Linked DNA regions of Homo sapiens. The protein of the gene in region 3 purifies or fractionates together with the protein of the main gene of each other region. This does not show direct contact. Each region holds a gene or a part of one and is shown on either strand. Other genes may lie near its edges. The genes, in order: CHSY3, DCBLD2, SIAE, GDF11, TENM3, MANEAL and MAN2B2.

The links.
Region 1: the proteins of SIAE (region 3) and CHSY3 purify together in Homo sapiens (affinity purification with mass spectrometry; 2 studies listed by BioGRID and IntAct, with this or other methods). This does not show direct contact.
Region 2: the proteins of SIAE (region 3) and DCBLD2 purify together in Homo sapiens (affinity purification with mass spectrometry; 2 studies listed by BioGRID and IntAct, with this or other methods). This does not show direct contact.
Region 4: the proteins of SIAE (region 3) and GDF11 purify together in Homo sapiens (affinity purification with mass spectrometry; 2 studies listed by BioGRID and IntAct, with this or other methods). This does not show direct contact.
Region 5: the proteins of SIAE (region 3) and TENM3 purify together in Homo sapiens (affinity purification with mass spectrometry; 2 studies listed by BioGRID and IntAct, with this or other methods). This does not show direct contact.
Region 6: the proteins of SIAE (region 3) and MANEAL purify together in Homo sapiens (affinity purification with mass spectrometry; 2 studies listed by BioGRID and IntAct, with this or other methods). This does not show direct contact.
Region 7: the proteins of SIAE (region 3) and MAN2B2 purify together in Homo sapiens (affinity purification with mass spectrometry; 2 studies listed by BioGRID and IntAct, with this or other methods). This does not show direct contact.

The regions. Positions count from the first base shown.
Region 1 is NC_000005.10:129,907,465-129,910,964, reverse strand, and holds part of CHSY3 (chondroitin sulfate synthase 3), read right to left. Parts: intron 2,889-3,500; coding exon 2,605-2,888; intron 1-2,604. UniProt on the Homo sapiens protein: Has both beta-1,3-glucuronic acid and beta-1,4-N-acetylgalactosamine transferase activity. Transfers glucuronic acid (GlcUA) from UDP-GlcUA and N-acetylgalactosamine (GalNAc) from UDP-GalNAc to the non-reducing end of the elongating chondroitin polymer.
Region 2 is NC_000003.12:98,818,196-98,821,695, reverse strand, and holds part of DCBLD2 (discoidin, CUB and LCCL domain-containing protein 2 precursor), read left to right. Parts: intron 1-1,407; coding exon 1,408-1,448; intron 1,449-2,278; coding exon 2,279-2,494; intron 2,495-3,500.
Region 3 is NC_000011.10:124,667,240-124,670,739, forward strand, and holds part of SIAE (sialate O-acetylesterase isoform 1 precursor), read right to left. Parts: intron 2,283-3,500; coding exon 2,121-2,282; intron 1-2,120. UniProt on the Homo sapiens protein: Catalyzes the removal of O-acetyl ester groups from position 9 of the free diacetylated sialate N-acetyl-9-O-acetylneuraminate (Neu5,9Ac2) in the cytosol and of the diacetylated sialate residues of sialylglycoconjugates in the lysosomes.
Region 4 is NC_000012.12:55,749,622-55,753,121, forward strand, and holds part of GDF11 (growth/differentiation factor 11 preproprotein), read left to right. Parts: coding exon 1-261; 3' UTR 262-3,500. UniProt on the Homo sapiens protein: Secreted signal that acts globally to regulate anterior/posterior axial patterning during development. May play critical roles in patterning both mesodermal and neural tissues. It is required for proper vertebral patterning and orofacial development.
Region 5 is NC_000004.12:182,795,902-182,799,401, reverse strand, and holds part of TENM3 (teneurin-3), read right to left. Parts: intron 2,766-3,500; coding exon 2,635-2,765; intron 1-2,634.
Region 6 is NC_000001.11:37,792,492-37,796,646, reverse strand, and holds the start of MANEAL (glycoprotein endo-alpha-1,2-mannosidase-like protein), read right to left. Parts: upstream 2,801-4,155; 5' UTR 2,465-2,800; coding exon 1,915-2,464; intron 1,160-1,914; exon of another isoform or gene 911-1,159; coding exon 801-910; intron 1-800.
Region 7 is NC_000004.12:6,581,689-6,585,188, reverse strand, and holds part of MAN2B2 (epididymis-specific alpha-mannosidase isoform 1 precursor), read right to left. Parts: intron 1-3,500.

The DNA.
Region 1 (3,500 bases), on a different chromosome or scaffold from region 3:
AAGGCATAGATAAAAGAAATTTAAAAATTTACCAAAATTCTATCACAGATAGTGCTTTTAAAAGAACTATGGGAAAAAAAGTAATGATCAATTTCATAGCTTTTTTAATGAGCAGATGTAAAATCTCACCTTTACTGAGAATGCCAACCTGGAGTAGAATAGACCAATCTTTCTATATAATATGAACAGTATCATATATGGACACCATTTCCACTAACATAAAATCCAAATTAGAAAGTGAAGTATGGGATCTGTGAATGTTATAACCAGTTTAGCTGTGCCCCAAGTTACGTACTTAGGTGTCTCATGAAACATAGAACACAATCTAGTATTAAAATTTAGATATAATCTCTTTGTATATGTATCTTTACTAGTTTTGCTAACAATGCTTTTTCACATATCTCTTGGTAATAAAATTTACCATCATTTCTCTATATAAGACTTTTGAGATTTTTTATTAGAATTAAATCAATGCCTCCCTTAAATAAATACTGTTTAAATAGCTCCTTTAATGACTGAAATCCCAATACAAAGTAAATTCTATATAATAACTTAGCAAAACATAAAGTCAACAGTACTTATCTAGAAAATATTTTATAATGCTAGGAAAACATGTTGAGACAATTAGTTTAGTTTTATACGGATTCATAAGTCAGTGATGGTCAAGTGTCAGTCTAAATTCAAATGTATTACGAAAAGTTATGGAAAATGTTATATTCACCAGGTTACAGCCTGTAAGACTTGGAATCTCTTTTGTTTGCTCTTACATCAGTTAATAAAAGGATCTAAGATTGCACTTATTCTAATAGACAGGGTGCACATCTATAATATAACTTCTCTTCACTTTAACCAGAACAAAGGCCTATATTATAAATAAAATATTAAATCAATTTTTGAGCTCCCAATTTTTGTGCATATCTTACTGTCTTGAACATGAATGAATGGAATGCTAGGTGAAGACTAGGCCTTCACAGCAGAATCAATGAGAACTTGAAAAGAAGAACACCTAAACACTATCTTGGTTAAAATTTTATATATTATGTTAAGGTAATAAAGTATCCTATAAAACACAATAATTTCCCATCTATATTGTTAACTACAGGTGAGATTTTTTTACTTATCCACACAAATATTTTTTTACTTATCCATGCAAAGTAAATACCTGCAAAACAATAACAGCATGTAAACAAAATCAACTGAATATGTTCTCTGTATTGAATATTTTTGTCTTTTACTTTGTTTTATAACAAAGGAAGAAATATTTTATTGAGTTTATTCTAGATTACCTGTCTCTAAACTGTAATGTTTTTACATAAATTTTTATCCTAAAGGGTAGTTGTAGGATAGTTTTTACAAATTACCATTTTATTATCAAAAGAAATCAGCAACATAATCATTTCAAATTTTCATGCCTATTTCAAATGACTAATAAATTTTACTTTCTGTAATGTATAAAATATGTCCCCAAAGTATAAATACCACAAAGTATGAAAGAGAAAGCAAAATTAACTATAGTGAGACTACACTTACAATACAAAAAAAACAAATGAAACTGTGTGTTTGGTGACTTCACAGGGAACATATTTTCATAAAATGTTTCTTCTATACTAAGTGACATGAAAAGTTTGAAAACATAAGCAAAGGAGTTAAGATATAATTTACAAAGCTGTGCACTCCGTAGCTAAAATAATACTAAATTCCAACTACTTGAAAACCAAACTATACTAAAAACAATACATTATTTTAATGTTAAATAAATTTTTACTAAAATTATCTTTTAGGAAATCTATTTTAAATAAAATGTTATTACATTTCAAAATCAATTTCTGAAGAAAAAATCTCTAAGTATTTCATAAAAATGATCACGGCAATAAATAAATAGCTAAGATTATTTAAATAATGGTTCCTTTTCAGAAAATAGCATAAGAATAGACATAAACAAATTTTAGGGAACCTGTCAAAAATACTAAGCAGCTACTGCACACCATTTAAACTTCTGCTTTTTTCCAGACAACTCATTCCTTTTGTATGCCTAAGGAAATACAGTGATTGGAATTTTGTGAATACATCTACCATAAATGATACACTATTAGTTTACTTTTCTGATACTTTTAAAAATATGTTAAATTTCCACTGGAAAATATCCAAAGAAACTTCAGATTTTAACCATTTAAAAACAAAGAGATGCCATTACACACCTAACCAAAATAAAATAAAATAAAATAAAAAGGCACAGTACCAAATGCTAAAGGCTACAGCTAAAGAGAAGAGTAAAATTAAACCTCTTGTTAGAAAAGGGAAATAGATTCACATGTATATAAGCACCAATAAATCAAGCAGGGGAGGATATAAGCATCTTCCAGAGATGTGGCCATAAGTATAGGCCACTGCTTAAAGTTAAGGGGCATGCTAATAACAAAGTCTCAGACAGGCCTGACACCTAATGAGAAAGTTATCTCCCACTCTTGTATCCCTTAAGGGCTGCTACTATCACTTTCAAGTAAATACAAAGATACAGAGAGAATGAATAGAATCGCTGCCCTAGATTATAAAATGGCATGTATATGTACTATGTGAACATTTTCATCACAGCTCCATGCTTACCTCGTAAGACCAGACACACTGAGTCCCACCAAAACGGCGAACGCATCTTCCTACTTCCACATCCTCATGAGTCGTGTACATTTCTCTAAGGCATTCACCAATATGTGGCACCATCCTCCTGAGAACTTCTCGGCTAAAGATCATGCCAGGTCCTCCCATACAGAAGTTTTCCCCAGGCTCCAGTCCCAGCTTTCCAAGCTCTTCAATATTCCCCAGGCCAGTCTGTCCCAGGTAGAGAGGCTTACTGCTGTTTAGCGATCTAAGAAACTCTTCTAATTTATCACCTACAAAAAGAAAGGCAACAATTACTATGTCTCCTTATTTCATAATCACTTATCATGTACAAGGTAAGGGACAGAACTTTCAACATTGTGCTTAAAATCCTCAGTCTTACACAACTGAAAAGAAGAAAAAGCCTCTTCCAATACTCTATTATTTTTAAAAGACTAATTCATAGTTATTAATTTAAACATATTAAAATTGTACCAGCTTCTGGTTAAGGTCACTGAAAAACCTTAACAGCTCTGACAATCATCAATTTTCTGTAAAAAGTGAAATAATGACAAGGAAAGTAAAGACAGGTTTCTTAGTACATTTGAAGTAACAAGAAGTTCCCAGGAATATAAAATAATATTAAATACTGGTATTTAGCATTGTTTTGGCTGACTCTTAATACCTAATAATTATTTTTTACTCATAATTGGTTTAGTTCAGTGTTTTGCCATTAACTAAACTTCAGTCATATACAACCCGCACAGTTTTGGAGGATGTTTGAATCAAACCTGTCTTGAAATTTAATTTGGGAAGGCACCTTTTTAGAAAAAAGTTTGTCAAAAATTAGTGTAATTGGTTTCACTTGCAGTTTGTTAAGTTCAGAAAAAACGTTTAAAAATAAA
Region 2 (3,500 bases), on a different chromosome or scaffold from region 3:
TCATTTGGAAGAGTAATGTGTTTCTTCTGTCTTTTCTAAGTGTTAAAAAAAAGTCTACATAAGAGTCTAGAAGTTTGTTGCCAAATCCTTATTTATTTTACAGATTGAAAGGCTTAACTACTGTGTTCCTTATAGCACATGGGGATTCAAGATAATTGAAATACTTTAAATATAAATTTAAGTTTGACATAAAGTGTTACATCATAAGCATTATTGTGAATCTTCCTTTCATTCTAAGAGAATATTTTGAAGATGTATTTTCATGGTAACTATAGTGTTCTACTGTTTTATAAAACGTAGGGTAGGCATCAAAAGCAAGAGAAATTGAAACATTAAATAGAAATGCAGTGTTAGCAATCTGTTTTTATAAATCTTGTCTCTTAGATCTGCTCAGTCTTTCAGACAACACTAAGCCTAATTGAAACCAGCTTTTCTTCAGAGGTCCTAGGCCAATTTTCATTCAGAAGACACAAGCATCATCCATATCCAGATTGGTATACAACAGGATTCAGCAGATTTGTTCTGTAAAGATCCAGCTAATAAATATTTTAGGCTTTACAGGCCACATGTCGCTGCAGCTTATTCTTTTTTTGTTTTATTTATAGCTCTTTATTCTTAACTCACGGCCCATACAAAACAGGCCATGCATGGGCAGTCATTTGCCCATCCCTGGTATAGATTCAACTACCTTCCCTTCTTTTTTTTTTTTTTTTTCTAGATTATTTTATGCAGACCCTTTCATTCCTTTACCATGTTATACCTTTAGAAAGATTTAGTGTTTGTGAATTCTCTCTTTCATACTTTAAAAAAGAAAACAGGGATAAATTGCATCCTCTTGTAATGGTTTGTATGTTGGACTAAAGGCAGGAGTGTACACTGAAACTTCTTCCATGAGATGTTGATTTCTCCTAAAAAAAAAAAAAAAAAGAAAAAGAAATCTATTAGTACCCAACTTTTCTCATGTTTATCCGAAAAAACTTGAGCCTCATTCTCTGAGAATTAGACCTTTTAGTGTATTTTCATCGAAAGCATTTGCCACAGAAAAGTGTTAAGAATCCATTTATTTCATGAAATAAAGTAGTGAGAGATTGACAGTAAACAATGAGTAAATACATATGAAAAAGAAGTACATATTAAAGATTACATAGAGAACTTTTGCACAATCACATATGAAACTGGGTGCTAGATACTTGTAGAGAAAGCTGTTTATGCTGATTTCAGAAGTTGTCCTGCTTAGAAATGAGACTTTTTTCCTAGGAACAATATTAGTTGTCTAATTTTTAGCCACACAGTCTTCTTGGTTCTTTTATTGGGTGGGGGGAACCAAATCAAAAGAAAATGTTTCACTAAATATGGGGCATCATGTGTTATGTGAGTATCACCAAAAAAAACCCTTCTCTCTTTCAGGGGACACTTATCTACAAGTCTTTTTACATTTAAGACAAGTGGTAAGCCTTTTATGGACTTTATAATTTTTTATTTATATAATATTTTTTGAACACTGTTAGGCACTGTGTCAGTTGCTGATTTATTGTACTTTCTCACGTAGTTGTCTTAATAACACTATGAGGTAAGATAGTTATCTAATAATATAATGAATAGAGCAAATTGAAAGTTTTATATTTATAGAGAAATGGTCATGTAAGCAAGGAAGGTTCCTTAAGAAAGATGACTTTTGAACTTGTCTGAAGAAGTAATCAATTCGTTCAACAGAAAATACTTACTGAGTGCCTTCTCTTTATGTGCCAGGCATTGCTCTGGTTCGAGTGATAGAGTAAAGTGAACAAACTCCTGCCTTCCTGGAGCTTACATTCTAGTAGTGAGAGATTGATGATAAGCAATGAATAAATTTCTGTTTATAATGTACTGTTTACAATATGATAAAAGATGTAGGAAAATAAGGAGGACTGGATTGAAGTTGGGAAGGGCCTTCCTCCCAGGGAAGACCTCAGGGAGAATGCAACATAGGCCAAAAACCTGAAGGAGGTAAAGGAGTGAGTTACTCAGTTATTTGGGAAGAGTGTCCCAGGGAGAAGATAATGTATCTCCATTAAACTAACAGTCATGCTTATAAATGAGCATGTTTGTAGGTTTCCTAATGATACACAAAGACATATGCCCAAGAAACACTTGCCTAGTTTTGAAATTTCTCTGTTACAGTGTATTATTAGTGTAGTGTATGTTAATTAAAGATGGAATAGAAAGTTTTCAGTGAGCAGGTCTACATGCATTTTGAAATTATACCTGGAAACCAAATTTAGTCTTTTCTTTGTTTCAGGATGTTATGGAACACTGGGGATGGAGTCTGGTGTGATCGCGGATCCTCAAATAACAGCATCATCTGTGCTGGAGTGGACTGACCACACAGGGCAAGAGAACAGTTGGAAACCCAAAAAAGCCAGGCTGAAAAAACCTGGACCGCCTTGGGCTGCTTTTGCCACTGATGAATACCAGTGGTTACAAATAGATTTGAATAAGGAAAAGAAAATAACAGGTTAAGAGACAAAAATTTTCTAAAGCAATTTGTAACACTTATTTTATTTGAAAAACTAGTAACATCTAAGATTTTCAGAGAAAATTAAGGCATTAAAATTGTAATTATATGGTTTTATATTTTCTTCACTGATGTTAATATTACTAGAGACACATTTTATGAAACATGGCAGAGAAAAGGAGTTATTTGTGTTGGTCAGGGTTCTCTAAAAGGACACAACTGATAGGACAGATGTATATATAAAGGGGAGTTTATTAAGGTGTATCGACTCACATGATCACAAAGTGAAGTCCCACAGTAGGCCATCTGCAAGCTGAGGAGCAAGGAAGCCATTCCGAGTCCCAAAACCTCAAAAGTAGGGAAGCCAACAGTGCAGCTTTTAGTCTATGGTCAAAGGTCCAGAAGTCCCAAAGCTAAGAACTTGGAGTCTGATGTTCAAGGGCAGGAAGCATCCAGCATGGGAGAAAGATGTAGGCTGGGAGACTTAAGCCAGTTTAGTCTTTTCACATTTTCTTCTGCCTGTTTTTATTCTGGCCGTGCTGATGCAGATTAAATGGTGCCGACCCAGATTGAGGGTGGGTCTGCGTGTCCTAGTCCACTGACTCAAATGTTAATCTCCTCTAGCAACACCCTCACAGACACACCTGGGAACAATACTTTTCATCCTTCAATCAAGTTGACACTCAGTATTAACCATCACAGTATTTAATTCGTAATAGCTTTTTGTTTCCATTGTAATGAGACTCTTTTTTTAAGGTAGTGTTTCAGTAAAGTGGTCTTGAGACATCTAAAATAACGGTCTCCTACAGTCATTAAGAGAAATTTATGTTAAAGGAGTCCATTTTAAATGATGAGATCATTAATTTTCCACATGTGGAGAGTATAAATTTAATTTAGGGGAACTTAGCAAATGGTCGGAATAATTGGTTGGGATTGGTTTAATTTTGTTAAAATATTTATTTTGTTTTGGTACTGTAAATAATACCAATAATCATCTTTAATCTGT
Region 3 (3,500 bases):
GCACAAACAGAAAGCACTGAGAGTCCCTTGAATCCTTCACTTTCAGGACATCCTGCAAGTCACTGACGGCATTTAGATCCAACAGAGAAGCATGTCTCAATCAGCTGAAGCTTCCCTTTCGGTCTTTTAGTTTACCCAACAACATTCTTACCTTAAAAAGTCTTAAAACCCAAGAATTAGAAGCACTTACCTTACATCAATGCCTGGCATATAGTATTTTTAAATGTTTGCTGAATGGAAATGAATTTTGAAGAGACTGCATCAGGGTCTGGATCACTCGGGATTGGATCATCAGTTTTGTATACTGATAAAACCAACCAGACAATCCTTGCTTTCGGGGGCCAGTACAATTCCCACAAGCATCCCTGTCACATATATATGCTAGCCATTGCTCAAACCACCAATTTGTACCTGAACTCCACCTCCACCTCTGAGCAGCCTCCTCATCTGTCTCATTCGCACCTCCACATCACACAGCTATAGCGCTATCTGTAACATCCAGCCCTGAGCATGCCTTCCTTCATCCCATAACTTCTAGCTTTGCCTCCTCCACACCGGCTTCTATATCTTTATCTCTTCTAGACAGAGACTCACTCCTTTGTAATATCTCCCTGCTCATGAAAACTGCTAATTCTCACCTTCCTGAACATCCCCACAGCCACTCTATGAGGTCAAACCCTCATCATCTCTTGCTTGGATATCACAGCAGCCTGCCCACCACCTCTATCTTACTGATCTCCAATCCATCTTCCACAGTGCTGCCACAGCGAACTTTCTAAAATATCTATCATATTCTTTTGCTGTTTAAAAATCTGTCCGTTTAGAATAAAACATACACTCCTTAGCAATGACAAACAAGTCTCCCTGTCTTTCCAACCTATCTCCTGTCATCTGCCCAGTCACACACCCCCCAGTGTTCCAGACCAACCAACCTGCCTGGCATCTCTCCCATGGCCCAGGTACACTCAGGCCTCCATGCTTTTGCCAGGCTATTCTCACTACCCAGTGTGCCCTGCTCACCTCTCAAGATGAGCCTCAGACTACGTAATTATCCCTACTCTCTACAAAGCACTCCCATCGCACCTTGTTCTTCCTCACTGTGGCACTTATCACACTTAACGATAACTGCTTACTATCTTCCTGTCTAACCTGCATGCCTCATTAAGGAAGAGGACATATCTGTTTTACTCATCACTGTATCACCAGTACCTAGCACAGTATCGGGCACATAGTAGGCTCTCAATAGATATTTGAATGACTGACTAAATAATAATAGTAATAGTTACAATCATGACTGCTAAAACTGACTCTGCACTTGTGTGCCAGGCACTGTTACAAGTCTTTACCAGTGTTAATTCGTTTAATTCTCACAGTAATCCTGTAGGTATCATGACGATCTCCATTTCACATATAAACTGAGACATGGAGATGTTATATTACATGTCCAAGATTATTCAGCCGTATAAATGACAGAATCAGGGCCTGAAAGCAGTGACTTCCAGAGCCTTAGACTACCAATATGAAGTCTTACATTCTTACATTATGGCACTCTCAGTAAATGATGCTGACTTAGAAATCCAAAGAACTGCTGGTTCTAATATATTGGTTTAAAAATAAGAAATGGGATTTACATGGTGCTAGTCTTGGGTTTTAAGACTTTTTAAGGTAAGAAGGTAAGAAGGTTGTTGGGCAAGGACTACCAGAGTTCTTACCCTCTCCTCCATACTGCCTCTCCTCTATATATGATTCAGCTCAAATACCATCTTCTGTGGAAACCTTCCCTTACCACCCAGTCTGAGTTCAATGTTTCTCCTCTGTACCCCAAGACACCCCACATGTACCTTCATCATAGCATTCATCACGCTGTCCTATATAACTTGGTATCTATTCCCATTATTCTGTAAGTTCCTTGAGAACAGGAACTTTGACTCAGTCTTATTTTTGTTTGTATCCTCAGTGCCTAAGCACATGGCAAATATTCAAATAACTTTTATGGATGAATGGACAGACGGATGTAGGGACGGATGGATAATGTGAGCTACAGCATTAGCATTCATTTTCAGATAATCCAGCAGGTGGCAGAAGAGGGCAATAGCTGAACGGAAGATGGGCTGCCTTACCTTTCACACTGGTCACTTTCTTCATGATGGTTTCCTGACCTTGGCGCAGGGTCACGGTCACTGTGGCTCCAGGTGTACCGAAGCCCCATATCACTGCCCCAGCAGGCTCCTTCTGCAGCACCATATCATTATTGATGTATGAAGCAAAGCGAAAACCAATACCTAAAAAATTTAACAAACACTGAGGGAAGCATCATCGGAGAGATATAGCACCAACTGGATCAAGTGAAACAGCAAAGAACATACAGTCTTTATGCAAGAGAATTTTAACATACTAAGTCCCTTTAATCGTCTAAAACTGGCTCTTCTTCCTCCTAATTAGGCAAGCAACATAACAAGAACAGTTTCCAACAGTATGCATCATAGCACATGATGACCACTAAGGAAAATTCCCAGAGCCCAAGGCAACCAATGGACCATAGTCTTCCCTCTCCTTCAGAGCTCTTGATCTTTTTTTGCTCTTGGGCTTGGCCCTAACGCTGGGCTCTCTCCCGCAAAATCACTAAAATGCTCCTTTCATGCACCTATAGATGGTGTTTATGAGAAAAATAAACCACTTCCTTTCCCTACTTTCCATTACCACACCTGCTCCTAATGACTGGGAATAAAACAGCATGCCTCTCTCCAAACAGCCTTCCCTAATCTTTTTCCCCTTCTCTATCTCCCCTTTTCTATGCCACTAATGCCAATTTCCTTCAAATAATGCCCCTTATCATGGTTTTTTGACAACCCAGTGTACTGCATCAAAAATTCTAAATAAGCCCTTATAAATACTCATGACAAGTCAGCTTCCTTCTCAGGTAAATTCAAATAAATCAAGACACATAAATAAGGTCAGTGAGAGATAGAAGGTCAACATGTCTGAACAAAGGTCTTCTGTCACAATTTTACCCATTCCACAAGCTAAATTATACTAAAAGGACAAGAGAAAGCACACTAGAAACTGGATTCTATTCTAGAGAGTCACTAACAAGACTGAATAAGAACTCGCTTTAACGACATCATTCCTATTTTTAACATCCAGCCTATATAAAAGTATTTTATTAATACAAACATCCATCCAAATTATCTCAGCGTGTTCCTCATCAAAACTTAACAAGGAAAAAAATAAAACAAATTATATCCCAATTTATCTGAATAAAACAGACCCCAAACTACCTAAAATAATTAACAAAATTTAGATCTTTTTAAGCATTTTAAACAAAAATGATAGGCAGAAAAGAGAACCAGAATTAACAAGGCTGACATTTTCCTCCCTGGAAGCTACAAATGATGAGGGCCCCTTCGGCTATACTTAACAGGGCAGCACAGCTAATGGAGTCGCCTACACAGCTCCGTGGCCTATTTATCCTGCTCTTGGAATAACAGCCCAGTCCCTAA
Region 4 (3,500 bases), on a different chromosome or scaffold from region 3:
TTTGAGGCTTTCGGCTGGGACTGGATCATCGCACCTAAGCGCTACAAGGCCAACTACTGCTCCGGCCAGTGCGAGTACATGTTCATGCAAAAATATCCGCATACCCATTTGGTGCAGCAGGCCAATCCAAGAGGCTCTGCTGGGCCCTGTTGTACCCCCACCAAGATGTCCCCAATCAACATGCTCTACTTCAATGACAAGCAGCAGATTATCTACGGCAAGATCCCTGGCATGGTGGTGGATCGCTGTGGCTGCTCTTAAGGTGGGGGATAGAGGATGCCTCCCCCACAGACCCTACCCCAAGACCCCTAGCCCTGCCCCCATCCCCCCAAGCCCTAGAGCTCCCTCCACTCTTCCCGCGAACATCACACCGTTCCCCGACCAAGCCGTGTGCAATACAACAGAGGGAGGCAGGTGGGAATTGAGGGTGAGGGGTTTGGGGGAAAGGGGAAGCAGGGGCATAGTCAGGGTGGGGAGTGTTTGAAGTTTGCAGATGAGAAGGTTTGACAAAAAGACAGAGAGATGTAGAGACAGTGATAGAGACAGAGGAACAAAAAGAGCAGCAGTGAGAAGGCAAAGAGAGAGGCAGAAGAGACAGACGAGGCAGAGACAAAACACTGAGAAAGAGACTGAAATGGAGTAATAAATGAAAGCCCCACACCAAGCCTCCTTTCTTCCACTGGCAAGGTGAGGGGCTTGGTATAGTTTGGGGAGATCCCCTGACTATTCAGTAGGAGAAGAAATCAAAAATCCATTCTTTTCTCCTTCTCTCCCTCCAACAGTGGCCAGGGGAAGGGGAAGTGAGGGCAGGGGCAAAAAGATTTGGGAATTTTTATTTATTTATTTATTGTGACTTTTCATTTTTTTGGTATTTGGCTTTACTGGAATAGGAGGGCCCCTGCCCACTGTGCCCCGTTTATCCCTTATTCCCCAAACCCTGCTCTCCCCAACACCTACTCACTTAAGCACTTGTATAAAGCCTCCAGGGTTGGGAATGGGAGTAAAGGGCAAGAGGGCGGACACATGAAGTTTAGTTTCTAACCCATCATCACCCTAACTCAACCTTTTCTGAGCCAAATGGCTTGAATTGAAGCCAGTTGTCATGGAAATAGTAAGAGGTTAGGGTTTAAGAGCTGGGGATGCGGGGGTGGGAGAGAGAACCCTCAACATCCAGGATCTATATAATGAGAGCTACTTTAAACCCTCAGGTCCACCCTCATGATGCTGAGTTATTTAGCCAGAGGGTGCAGCCTGCTTATGCCCAAATTCCCTCAGCCAAGAGAGAGACCAAAGAGCCTCTGGAATGGCCCTGCTCCCAGCCTCTATCTTCAGGTCAATTAGAGAGAGTATAGAGACCCCAGAGTCCCCTGGGTCTGGAAAGCGTTAGGAGAGGTCAAGAAAGGAGCAGTAAGGAGGCTGAAGGTTACAGGGCATTTGAATCCAAATCACTGCTCTGGGCTAGGGAATAGAGCCAGCAGACCAAGGTGGGAAGGATTCTGGAAGGGGGACATTTTAGTCTCCTAACCCCAAAGCTCAGGGTGGAAGAGGGGAGAACAAGGAAGCAGAGTGTATAATTATTTTTTCCTTTTATTTTTGGAATCTAACAGTACCTGGCAGCAGGGAGGGGAAAGTACAGTGGGGAAAAGCATCTGACAAGGCCAGTTAGAACAGAGGATGGGAAGGATGGAGACTCCCGGGCTTGGAAGGCTAGGAAGCAGGCAGAGACTGGTTGCCATTTCAAGTCACTAGCTAGGCCCATTCATTCCTCCCACAACCCTGACCCATTCTCCTCTGGACTCACTGTGCCTCAGTTTCTTCCCCTCAATGGAATGAGAAATGACAGCACCCGCCACAGCCAAGAGATGAATTCTGAGCACTTACCACGGGCACTTTATGGACATAAAATACCTCTCGCTGTGGGACAGATAACCAGGGCACCAGAGTAGTGGTGAAGAGATGTGAGGCTTAAGAGGAGTCACAGGCTTCAGAGTACAAGTTCCCCTCTGCCTCCCAGCTGGACAGTGCCTAGAAGCCAAGGAGTTGAGAATCTCCTGATCCACACCCTATCCTTACTTCACCACCAGGCCTCTTGGCTCCAGGCAAGAGCTTAGAGGATGTCAGGAGAGGTGGGGGTAAGAATCTTCAGCAAAACTGTCACTCTAAGTAGAGCCAGCAGTTACGGGTCTGATAAAAACAGTACTGAACTAAAGTAAAGCCCAAGCTGGTGAGCAAAACTGGATGGCTCATTCTTCCCAAGAGCATGACTCTCCCCCTTGGCCAGTTGGTGGAAGGGGCAAAGGTATGTGACCACCCTTGAGAAGGTGATGTTGGTGAGCTTTAACATCTTATTCCTATTCTTATAGTGAGAAAGTGAAACAAGATCTTTCAGTAGAGGAATGGGCAGGGCTGTTAGGCTCTTCAGCTTGCCTTCACCCATATAGCAGCTATGCTAACCCCAAGCCTCTCTGGCCCTGTTCTTCATCCTTCCTTCTGCCCCAATCCTGAAGGACAAGACACACCCGGCCATCAACACCACTCACATTTCCTTGGTGGAAGGAAAGGAACAGAGAAGTGAAGAACAGATACCTCCCTCCAAGGTCAAATGCCTCGTGATCTTGGCAGAGTAGGGATTGGGCAATAAGCATCAGGTATCTTCCCTCTACAGATTCTAGAGAGCTGGGGCATTAAATATGGGGGACACTTAGAATACAGCTCCTTAAATACCACCAAATAAAGACCTTTGTGTGTGTGTGGTGGGTGGGGGGGGGGCAGGGGTCTTTCTCTTATGAACATAAATCTGTGAGCTGAAGTCTCATTCCCCTGTTCCTCCCTACCCCCAAAGAGGCACAGAGTGAAGGGACTTGGGGGGCACAGCTCAGCAACCCAGTGGGAGTTAGCACCCCCTCCCACCTTATGATGTGTGTGGACCTGGCCAGTGCCCCTCTGAACATATCATTATTAGTGTAATTATCATTTATTTTGTGTATTTGTCACATTGTGTGCATGACAGCCTTTGTTAAGGGTGTCTGAGGAGTATGGAGCTGACAGGGGCATTGGAATGCCAGGAAAGAACTTCTTCAACTGAGATCAAGGCTTCCTGGAGGGAACCACTGCAAAAAGGCCATCAGGCAGTTTTCAAGTTATGTGACAGAGGGCAAAGACGGCCATAGGGTGCTCTGAGTTTTGGGATGGTCACATGACACAATCCAGCACTTGAACCTGAAAAAAAAAATAAAAGCGGTCAAAGAGTTTAGAATTCAGTGCTGAGCTCTTCTCCCTAATCAAGTGCCACATTTACACCTTGGAGAACCGGAGGTGAAGAGGATCTGAGACAGGAAACCTCGTGTTCAATGACTAAGAAGATGGGGTCCTGGAGCAAGACAGAAAACACTAAGGGCATGGTGGTATAAGGTTTGGGACATGCAGGCCAAGGAAGGATGGAAAGAGGACAGGAAACTGGGGGTACCTAGAACAACCCCTCTCTGAAAAGCTTGAGCCAA
Region 5 (3,500 bases), on a different chromosome or scaffold from region 3:
GGAACCCCCAAATGGCTCACTCATCGTGGATCACTTTAAAGCTTTCTTCGTTTCTAACATGGGAAAAATAGTCCTGTTTCTTGCTTTTCTCTTACAGTTTCTAGATGCTCTTTTCCCACTCCCACCCCACGTGGGGAACCCAGCTCATCCGGATCTGCATGCTCGTAGCTTTCTCCACAGGAGGCTGAGAAGCCACCAAACACAGAGAGGGATCTGAACGGCTGGGGATACTTAGTGCCGATCACAGGGCCCCGCTTCGTATGCTTTGAAATGCTTGTATTTAAGTCAACTCTGTCCCCTCTCCTGGCAGAGTTTTCAGCTGAAGATGGTGAGTGTAACCGCAGAACTGAAATGTACAGGGATGAGTGGAAGGTGGGGCAGCTGGAGACGATATTTGTTACTTTAGGAAAACAATTATTTTTCTCAGACTTAGGGACAGTGGACCGTCTAGACTGGCAAATGTTTTAAATTGGGGGCATCTTAACTCAGCCATTTCTTATACCACCAGATGTTTGTCTGGCCATTGTTTCCCAAATGAAAACATCTGTTTCATTTGCGGCAATGAAAGAAACAGTTGTTTTTCTGTACTTGGGGCAGCCTCAGTGTCTTTGCCCACGATTTCCTATGCTGTCCTTATGGTGCACTTCTTTTGACAGAGAACTTGAACCATATTTAAAAGGCTGCTTAGGAAAAGAGCTGGCAAGTCCATTTGTACAGTTAGATGTAGGTGTTTTCAGGCATGTTGGAAAGTCATACACAATTAGGAAGTGCATGTTCAAATGCATTAGGAAACTTCGGTATGTCTTCATGCCACTGTATCAGTGTAGACAGTCATGCACTGCTTAACCGCAGGGAGGCATTCTGAGAAATGTGGCATTAGGCCATTTCGTCCTTGTGTGAACATCATAGCGGGCACTTACACAAACCTAGATGGTGTAGCCTACTGCACACGTAGGCTGTATGGGATGGCCTATGGCTTCTAGGCTGCAAACCTGTATACGGTGTGACTGTACTGAATATTGCAGGCAACTGTAACACCATGGTAAGTACTTGTGTATCTAAACATAGAAGAGGTACAGTAAAAACACAGTGTTGGCAGAGCCCGGTGGCTCATGCCTGTAATCCTAGCCCTTCAGTAGGTGGAGGCAGGAGGAACGCTTGAGACCAGGAGTTCAAGACCAGCCTGTGCTACGCAGGGAGACTCTTATCTCTACAAAAAATAAAAAATTAGCTGGGTGTGGTGGCACGTGCCTGTAGTCCCAGATACTTGGGAGCCTGAGGTGGGAGGATCGCTTGAGCCCAGGAGGTCAAGGCTGCACTCCAGCCTGGGTGACACAGTGAGACCCCATTTCAATTAAAAAAAAATATATATGATATTGTAATCTTATGTGATCACCACCTTATACAAGGTCTGTCATTGACCAAAATGTTGCACACACACGACTATATTTGTAACTTATGAAAAAGGAATTGCTTTTATATTAGGTATGAAACAACAAAAAACAGGTACTGGTACTGTAGATAGCCTGTGTGTGTGTTAACCATGGCTGCCTCTTCTCTTTGTTTTCATTGAAATGATAGGAAATTGCTCAAGGGGTGGTTGGGAATTAATTGTCCTAAGAAAGTCTGCACTGTCTTCTCCTTATGATCATGGAGTCACCCAGTTTCTCCATCTCTAATTATTCTTACTGTAAGCTGGAAATTCTGGTGTTTTGCTGTGCATTCCTTTCTGGTCTCTGGTGGGGATTAGAAGTACCACTTTCTGAAGCGGCAGCTTTGACTTTGCAATTTTCTATTATATTTCTTTATTTCTTATAATGGTTACAGGCCTCTTGATCTGCTATTCTCAGGAAAATTCCATAAACCTTCCTGGTTGTAGGTGGAGCCTTACCAGAGGACATTTATTTTTATTTTTAATCTTTTCCTATGAAACACTATTAATTAATTAATTATTTTTTTTTTGAGACGGAGTTTCGCTCTTGTTGCTCAGGCTGGAGTACAATGGCGTGATCTCGGGTCACTGCAACCTCCGCCTCCCAGGTTCAAGTGATTCTCCTGCCTCAGCCTCCTGAGTAGCTGGGATAACAGGCATGCCCCACCATGCCGGGCTAATTTTGTATTTTTAGTAGAGATGGGGTTTCTCCATGTTGGTCAGGCTGGTCTCGAACTCCCGACCTCAGGTGATCCGACCTCCTCGGCCTCCCAAAGTGCTGGGATTACAGGCGTGAGCCCCCTCACTCGGCCAAAACACTGTTAATTTTTAAAGAAGTTGAACCTTGTGGCATTGTTTGTGGTTTGCTAATTTGTAATATGAGTTCCCTGCCCTTTTGTTTATTGTATTTTTGCCTTCAGGTCCACGCTTTCTTGGGGTTCTTTTTAGAAACCCAGCACTCGAAAGTGAGCTTCTGCATTTCTATGTTTTCATTAGCATTGCTGAAAACATATTTAAGCCTGTTTAAGAGGCCTCTGGTTTGTTGAACACAAATGCAGAGGAAGTGTTGTTTTTTTTCCCTAAAACAGTCAAAAAGTTAAAAACTGTCTTTGGTACAGTTTTCACAAGGGTAGTTTGATTAGATATGGGTAGATAAGACACAAGCTACTTATCACCTTTCCGTAGGTCTTTTTGTTTCTTACCGGTATATCATCCCACTGCTGACTCTTCACAAGTTCGTAAGAAGGTTCTGTTAAATCAAATTTGGGAACAGGGAATCCAGGAATAGCATTGTGCAGATGGAAACCAAATGTCACCAGCCAGCTGTTAACATCTAGGAGAAGAATGTTCAGAATGAAAGGTGTTGGAGTTTGTTTTGTCCTTTCATAAATTTAAATTCTTACCTTAAAAAGAAAATCCAATTTCACAATTAATAATCTGAAAAAGAGCACCTGTTTGCTTTCGTCCTACAAATCTAAACCTACTGTTTTTAGACATGAAGACGGTAACCTTCACAGCAGAACTATGGCAAATGCTACGAAAAATGCGAGTAATAGATGCTCAGACAGACTGGGTAAGCCATCAGTCCTGCTAAGTTGCAGCCTGTGCTAGTAACAGTGCTAGCAAAGGTAAGAACAATGCACAGCAGCAGGAGAGAGACATACTTGTAGAAAAGAAACGAAATTTATTTTGTAGTTGGTCAAGGCTGGTCTCAAATAGAAGTTGTGTGTTATTAGCTCTCCAAAGCGATTGCCCAAGGATATGCGGACTTCCACAACCCATTTTCTATTAATAAAACCCCTAAATTGAGAGTATTAAAATCAACAGTTGATTCTTAATCAAAGATGAATGCTGCAAGCTGGCAAAACTGGCCAAGGGCCCAGAAGTCCTGATTACCATCAGTTGTGACTTCAAAGGCTCACTGTGCACAGGTGGAGACAAACTTTTTGGGGAGAGAACCCGGAAACCTTTAAGGTGGTATTTTAAAATATTGCCATGTGACTCCAAAAGCCATTCAGCTCAGAATAAGGCTTTTATTCTATTCTGGAGGTTATAATGTTACAGAACT
Region 6 (4,155 bases), on a different chromosome or scaffold from region 3:
GTTCAGAAGAGGGCCTGGCAGTGGTGGGCACAGTAGAGATAAAGGCAGCTGCTGCCCTTGAAGGCCAAAACAGGGGTGAGCAGTTTGCCCATCTCCCGCAGCAGGGCATGTGGGAATCATTTTGGTGGGCTGTTACAGGGTGGCTAATAGGTTTCAACCTTGTGCCAGCTCCAAGTGGTTGGTGCTAGCTGCCTGAAACAGTGGAATAAGTATGCTGAAGCTGTGTCAGTGGAAAACTGCTGTGATCTGTTAGACATGTCAGTGGTGGAATTCTCTTCAGGAATAGGGGAGTGGGGCTTTTCTTCTTTCTCTATCATTTTTCTTCCTTCACCACAGAAGCAAGGGATGACTTACTTGATTGGCACATGTGGGGAAATGCTTCGTCCAGTCCGTCCTTCCTCTTGAAAGTGAGCCCACCTGCTGAGAACACCTGCCTACTCCTCGAGGTCCAGCACTGCCTCCCACTAGAGAGTTGAGTCTGCAGGTCCCTTTGGCTCTTGCCTACCCTTTTTCCACCAGGGTTTACAACCTAACCTCTATTATTATTTAACAAAAGTGATAATTATTTAGTCTTCTCTTGGTCCTATATTTAGTTTTCTCAGTTTTCTTAGAATTCAAAAAACTAAGAGCAACATAGGCACCATTTATCTGAACCCTCCCCCAAAACCACACTTGCCACATATTTGTTATCCCTTTGGGCTACTGCCAAGAACTTCTGTAGAGGCACTAACCCTGTGGGCGGAGGAGAGCAACTCTCCAGAATAGGGCAGAGAGCACGTGGCCTCTTCTTGGAGACTCACCTGGATGCTGTACTGATGGGCGGTGTCCAGAATGGCGGGCACCAGGTCATCTGAGGGCTCCCCGTTATCATCAGCCATGCCAGGTGGGTACCAGGACAGGACCAGGACGCCTGAGACGCAACACAGAGGCCACTTCAGAGACACACAGTACCCCCCTCAACAGAGATTTTTTTCCTCACAAACATCTCCAATTGCAAAAATGGTTCCTAAAAACCTGAAGCAAGCCTCCTGCCAGGTTCACTTCCTGCAGATGAGTCCCAGAGCCTCGCGCCCCGGAGCTGTCCACGCCCGCGGTGCTGAAGCGGAGCGCCTGCGGGAACCGTAGCGCGCCAGGCCGGAAGGGAGCCAGGCTTTAGACTGCCTCAGCAAGTAGTAGAACAAAGGGAATGGGAGGACAGTGCCACACCCACCTGGAAGCCACAGGCCTACCTCTGAAGAAGAGAAGCACCCCTAACCCTAACGTCCCGCATGGAGAAGAGCCCTGAGCAGAGGCCATCTGTAAAATCCAGCAAAATTCAGTGACGAAATCCGAAATAAGTGAGCCTCCCCTCCATAGCCTACGAAGGAGGCGCCCTGGGACCTTCCCTCCAGCTGGGTGCTTGATGAAAAGCCTCTAAACCCCCAACACTACCTCCAACTGCAAATAGAGCAGAGGCCTTCATGGAACACGGGCACACTTTCCTCTCTGCAGCCAGCAAAAGCAGGAACGGCTGCTGCTCTACCCTGTACCTGCCATGAAAGCAGAGGCCGCCCTAAGTTCCACTCCTCTGAACCCCAGAACCTGCGGGCCAGGACTCCAGGCCTCACTTCCCATCGCCCAACAAATTTGAAGACTCTGCCTCCCTCTCCTGGTGCAAACTCCTAGCAGTTCCGCCCTATGGGAAGGGCCCTGGATGTTAGGGATGGAAGGGCCCAGCTGGGGGGTCTGAATACTAGACGGAGGGGCGGTGTCGCATGGTGGGCCCAGGATGAGAGTGGGAGGGAACAGCTAAGAAGCCAGGCTGGCGGATAAGTGGGACCAAAGGGCCGGTGACAGGACCAGAGGGAGCTGGGGTGTGGGAAGGAGGAAGGGTGAGGCTGGGGGGCAGGGCCGCCCGGGGTGGGGGGCGCTCACCGATGGCGGCTTCCTTGAGCTGGGTCATATGCTCCCGCAGCACTTCGGGGTCCCGGGAGCTGTAGGGCCCCAGCTCCGGGTAGAAGCTGGAGCCCAAGTCGTCTGGGGGGCTGTGGCGGCCGCGGGGGTAGCTGGCCGAGATCTTGGGGTCCCAGTGCGGCACCATGACGTGGTCCCAGTGAATGTAGTGGCCCTCGCGCCGCGGGCTCCCGTACCACGAGTAGTAGAAGGCGTGCAGGTCCGAGTAGACGCGCAGGCTCTGCACGGGGGCGGGCTCGGCCTCCGCGGGTGCCGGCCCAGGGGAGCCGCCAGGGTCCGCGGTGCGGGGCGGCGGCGGCGGCGGGGGCGGCGCGGCAGGGGCTGCCGGGGCCCTGGCAGCGGGCGCGGGGGCCCCCTCTGGGCGTCGCTCAAAGGGCGCCAGCTCCAGGCCCGGGCCCAGCGCCGGGAGTCCGTCCGGAGCCTTGAGCGTGCGCAGACCCATGAGGGTGCCGAAGGCGAAGAGCAGCACCAGGAACAGAGCGATGCAGGCGCGGCGCCGCCGCCGGGCCATGGCCGACTGTGCGCTCCTGCAGCCGCCGCGCTACCTCCCAGCGTGCCGCGCCATGGCCGCCCGCCCGGCCGCGCGCTTCCCAGGCAGACTGTGCGCCCGGCAGAGCGCGGCGTGGGCGGCGCCCGGCCTGTCCCCGCAGTGCGGGCGGGCTCGGCACACAGGACGCAGGCGGCGCGGACCAAGTGGCCGCGAGCCGAGGGGGAACTGCACGCCGAGTGCAACGCAAGGCCCAGCGAACGGCGAGTTTCGGGGCCACAGGAGCAGGGGCCTGAGTCAGGCCGCGTGACCCGCGAAAGAAGAGTCGCCTGGCTGCCTGGGCGGCAGGTGGTGGCGCCTGGCTGGGGAGCGGGGACGCAGGCCTTCCGGAGCGCGGGAGAGAGGCGGCGCGGCGGGGGCGGGGGCGGAGGCGGGGCGGGGGGGGGAAAGAAGCGCGCGTCGGTGGTTCTCTCCCCAAGGATTTCCTTCTTCGTCGATCCACCTTTACTCACTTCACTGGCCCCCTCCCTACGGGTCTCAGTGCCACCCTTCTAGCCCCAGGTCCCCCATCCCTCGGCCCCCCTCCCCGGCACCCCAGGCAGCCCCTGAACCTCGGGGGAAGGGGCGTCGGGAAATCCCCAGGAATCGGACCCTGCAGACGCCGTCCGGGGCCTGGCGGGCGGAGGACGACCGTGACTCGCGCAAGGTCACACTGACCGGGCCTGGACCCCGGGTCAGGGCGCACTCTCCAGAGCTCGCTGCACTGCCCAGCCTGCCGGGTCGCAGTGTGGCTTAGTGAGTTCTCTGGTTGGAATCTCACGAAGCCAAAATTAAGGCGTTGGCAGGTTACACTCCTTTCTGGAGGCTCTAGGAACGGATCTACGTCCAGCTCAATGGCAGAATTCAGTTCCATACAATTGCAGGGCTAAGGCCCCCATTTGCTTGCTGGCTGTCATCTGGGGGTCTTTCTCAGTTTCTAGAGGCCTGCTGCATTTCTTGGCTTGTAGGCCTGATGTCGTCTGGAGCGGTCTCTCCTGGGAGAACCTCCTAGAGTCAGGGAGGATTAAATGAGATGGTTCCCGTAAAGCACTTCCACGGGGCCTGAAAAGCAAGCGCTCAATACATGTGCGCCTTTCTTCCTGGATTCTGGGCTCCAGAGGACAGGCCCCGTCTTATTTACCTTGTTAGACGCCAAGGGCTGCCGGAACAGCATCTGACACTCACTTCCTAGTGCCGTTTAAGTGAGTACCAGCCCCTGGTGTGATAGTCTGTAGATAATAAGCTTTTCACTCGCTATTGATAGAGTTCCTACACTGCATTATTCATTACTTCATTTATTCAGAAGATAGTTTTGTTTATCATATGCCTCCTTCAGTGGTCCGCAATGACAGCAACTTTGTTTCATTCCCTGTCTGCATGTCTAAAACAGAGCTTGGGATGATGGCGGGCACCCAGTTCTTATTGGTTAAGTAAAATGAATTGTAGGGAACCCAGGAAGAGGAGCAGGGAGCTTGGGAAGTGTTGGTAGACCTGCAGCCGAGGAAAGTGAGCTTGAGAGACCTTATGGTGGTAAATGTGAATGAAGTGGAATGCCTTCAGCTCCAGGTCGCCCATACCCGATTCAGCCTGACTTAAGGAATATGCCAGTGTATCAACTTGCAAAGCAAGGAGCCCAGTGGCAGGGCAGAGTGGGTATTTTCTCTGATCCAACAATG
Region 7 (3,500 bases), on a different chromosome or scaffold from region 3:
TGTGGGAGGTGAGGAGTGGGGCTGGCATCAGGTGCACAGCAGAGGTGAGAGGGGATCAGGGGGAGCGTGGACTAGGAGTGTGGGTGGAGGCTGTGCATATGTAAGCAGAGAGGATGGAGAAGGAGCAGCCAGAGGGTGGGGGGAGCACAGGGGGAGTGCCAGCTGCAGGATGAAGGAGGGAGTGGGCAACAGCACCGCACTGAGAGGAGCCAGGAGCTCTGGAGGGTACGGCCTCGCACCAGACAGGGCAGCCGGTGGGGGCAGGCTGAAGGCTGCCAAGTCAGCACCCCTTTTTCACTCGCAGAACCTTCCCTCTGTTCAGGGTGCACCATGCCCAGCCTCAAGGGACGAATCACAGTTGATCTAAGCCAAATGTGGCACGCTTACTCCCTCCTGTCAGATATTGGTTCTCTCTGTCTGGCAGCTGGAGGGGCATTGTTAAGTAATGAACTGGGAGGCCATCAGGCTGAGCCGGCTCCAGGCCTCGAGTTCCTCTGTCAGCAAACCCAAATCTAACTTGGTGGAAACAGGAAAAGAGAACTTAAGCTTGACCCATCGGAAACTGCCAACCAACCTCTAACTAGGGACTGTTCACTGTAGGCAAATGTTTTCTTTGTCTTGCTTTCAGGAGCACCTTATAGACGTTTCCCTCTCATATTCCCTTAGTGGAGCCATGAACTGCTCACAGTCTAGTACTTCCTGATTCAGGAATCACTGTTTGTTCAAATAAATGCTAACATTTTAGTGTGTCTAAGTTTATCCAACAGAATAGACTATGGGTATAGAAAGCCCCCTCTCTTCCTTTTACTGCCTTGAATGTGGTGTCTGGTAACATGATGGCTGGAGCTATGGCAGCCATATCGTGACCACAAGGGTAAGGACATGAGAATCACAGATATCAAGGTACTGCAGAACCAGTCCCAAACTATCCCCATCTTGTTAAGTAAATGTTCTTAAGACTCAAGTCGCTTTGTTACAGGTAGTTAGACAAGCATGAGTGGGGCAGGGGAGGGCTCTTCCCCCACCCACTAGGAATGTTGGGTGATGGTTTGGCAATTATCACATTGCCTCTCTAGAAGTGAGAAATTGGCAGCCAGCACTAGGGAGAGGGCATTTCCTGATGGTCCACACCTGTTGCACTAACATGTTAATTGAATGCAGGTGCCAGGGAGACGTGACTTCCCGAGCAGGTGCATTAAGAGACAAAATGGCGGAGTTTGACCTTCCAGGGACACTCCACTGGAAAAGGGAAGAAAGCGTCAGATGGGCATGTGTGCAACTTCCTAAACACAGTGCGTGTGCTCACCTCCCAAGGGTAAGGAGGGCACTGTGAGTGCGGGTAGCCCAGCCTAAGGGAAGAATCATGGGAAAGGGGACCAGCCTATAAAGTCCTAGGATCAAGGATCAATACAGCACTTGACCTTCACGTGCCCACTTGGGACTCTTTCAAGCATATTTTCCTTTCTTTCTCATTTTAAAGCCTTTTTAAATAAACTTCCACTTCTGCTCTGAAACATGCCTCAGTCTCTTTTTCTGCCTTATGCCCCTCAGTCGAATTCTTTCTTCCGAGGAGGCAAGAACTGGGGTTGCTGCAGACCCGTACGGATTAGCTGCTGGTAACTTGGATACCTTCCACCACTAACAGCTTTACTTAGGTTTTCTGGCCGTCCAGCAGAAAGCATTCCTGAGACTTCAGGGTGATTCATGACCAAAACTGTTAATTGGCGTCCGATATACATTCTGTCCTTCTTCCTTTTAGTAACAGAACCACACACTCCTTCTTGGTTTTAGCAGGGCAAATGGACTCCCAGCCAGAGACTACATTCCCCAGCCTCCTTTGCAACTGGTAGAGGTCACATGACACCACTCTGGCCAATGGACTGGGAGCAAAATAGACTCTATTCCCCAGCAGTCCCTGCAGTTGAGGGAGGCCATATGATTAAGTTCTGGCCAATGGAAATGTGAGGAGTGATGTGGGCAGGTTCTAGGTCGCCTTTTACAAGGAAGCTGCCTGCCCTGGCTCCACCATTCCCTATCCCCTAGCTGCTGGAAGGACAACTCAGTGGGGTGAGCCAGTCTAGACTGCAACTCAGGCAGGCAACACTGTGGGGGATGGCTGAACATCAAGATGGAAGCAACGTGGATCCCTGGGTCACTCCATGGAGCAGAGCCACCCAATCACCAGAGTGGCCTGCACTGCAGACTTCCACAGGAGAGAAACACACCTTCCTTCTTGTTGGAGTCACTTGGTCTCTGTTCAAGCTGCTGAACCAGTATCCTCACCAGTATAATGACCAGGCCACAAGCAAGCTCACTAGCACATGCAGGGCAGAGGCCAGGATGCAGGGGCTGAGGGTGAAGTAGTGGGAGGTGGTGGGGGGTGAGGGGGTGGTGGGAATAAATGCCATTACAGCCTGAGCTGGAGGGTCTTGCTTTATGATGTTGAGGTCAGGAGTTCAAGACCAGCCTGGGCAACACAGTGGACCCCATGTTAAAAAAAATTTTTTTTTGAAGAGAGACAATTTAAGTGTGTTTTCAATACTGCTGGGGGCCGGGCTTGGTGGCTCAGGTCTGTAATCCCAGCATTTTGGGAGGCCAAGGTGGGCGGATCACTTGAGGTCAGGAGTTCAAGACCAGCCTGGCCAACATGGTGAGATCCCTGTCTTTACTAAAAATATGAAAATTAGCTGGGCATGGTGGTGCACGCCTGTACTCCCAGCTACTCAGGATGCTGAGGCATAAGAATTGCTTGAACCTGCGAGGTAGAGATTGCAGTGAGCCGAGATTGCGCCACTGCACTCCAGCCTGAGTGACAGAGTGAGGCTCTGTCTAACAACAACAACAACAGCAGCAACGGCAACAACAACAACTAAATACTGCTGGAAGGAGTCAGAGAGACAAGAGAAGGTGGAAGAGAGTCTGTGACACAGGAGAGGGATCGCGGATTCAGTGGGAAGGGAGTGGGGTTGGGGGACAGGGCTGAGAGCTTGGGTTTGAATGGCCAGGACAGCAGTGGTCATCCAGGATGGCCCAAGGTGTCTCCTTGACTCTCACCTGGACCCTTTGCCTCTCAGCACCTCTGAGGCGGGAGCTGGGCTCTCTCCCCTCAGGATAGGGGTGAGGGGTTCTTTCCCTCTGGCACCTGCCACTCTGCTGGGCCTCCGCTAAACATCCCAGCTGGGAAAGTGTCCCCTCAGGGAGGGGCATGAAAGCTCTTACCCCCGGGGGCCGCTGCCCACACCCAGCCTTTCCCTGACACTGCAGTGCTGGGAACAAATGCTTTTCCCCTCACTAGAAATGTCACATCTAAAATTAAGGTGGTGTTGGCGTGACTGCCGGGAGCAGGAGTTGGGGAGGTAAAGGCTGGAAAGGTGAGCTTACGGGCAGGCCCAGTGCCCCAGGCCCTGGCGGGCAGCCAGGAGTGGGTCTTGGTTGAGGAGATGCTTTGGCACCCTAGATACCCGAAGAAGAAGGTCAGAGGTCTAGAGGCTGCACCAGCC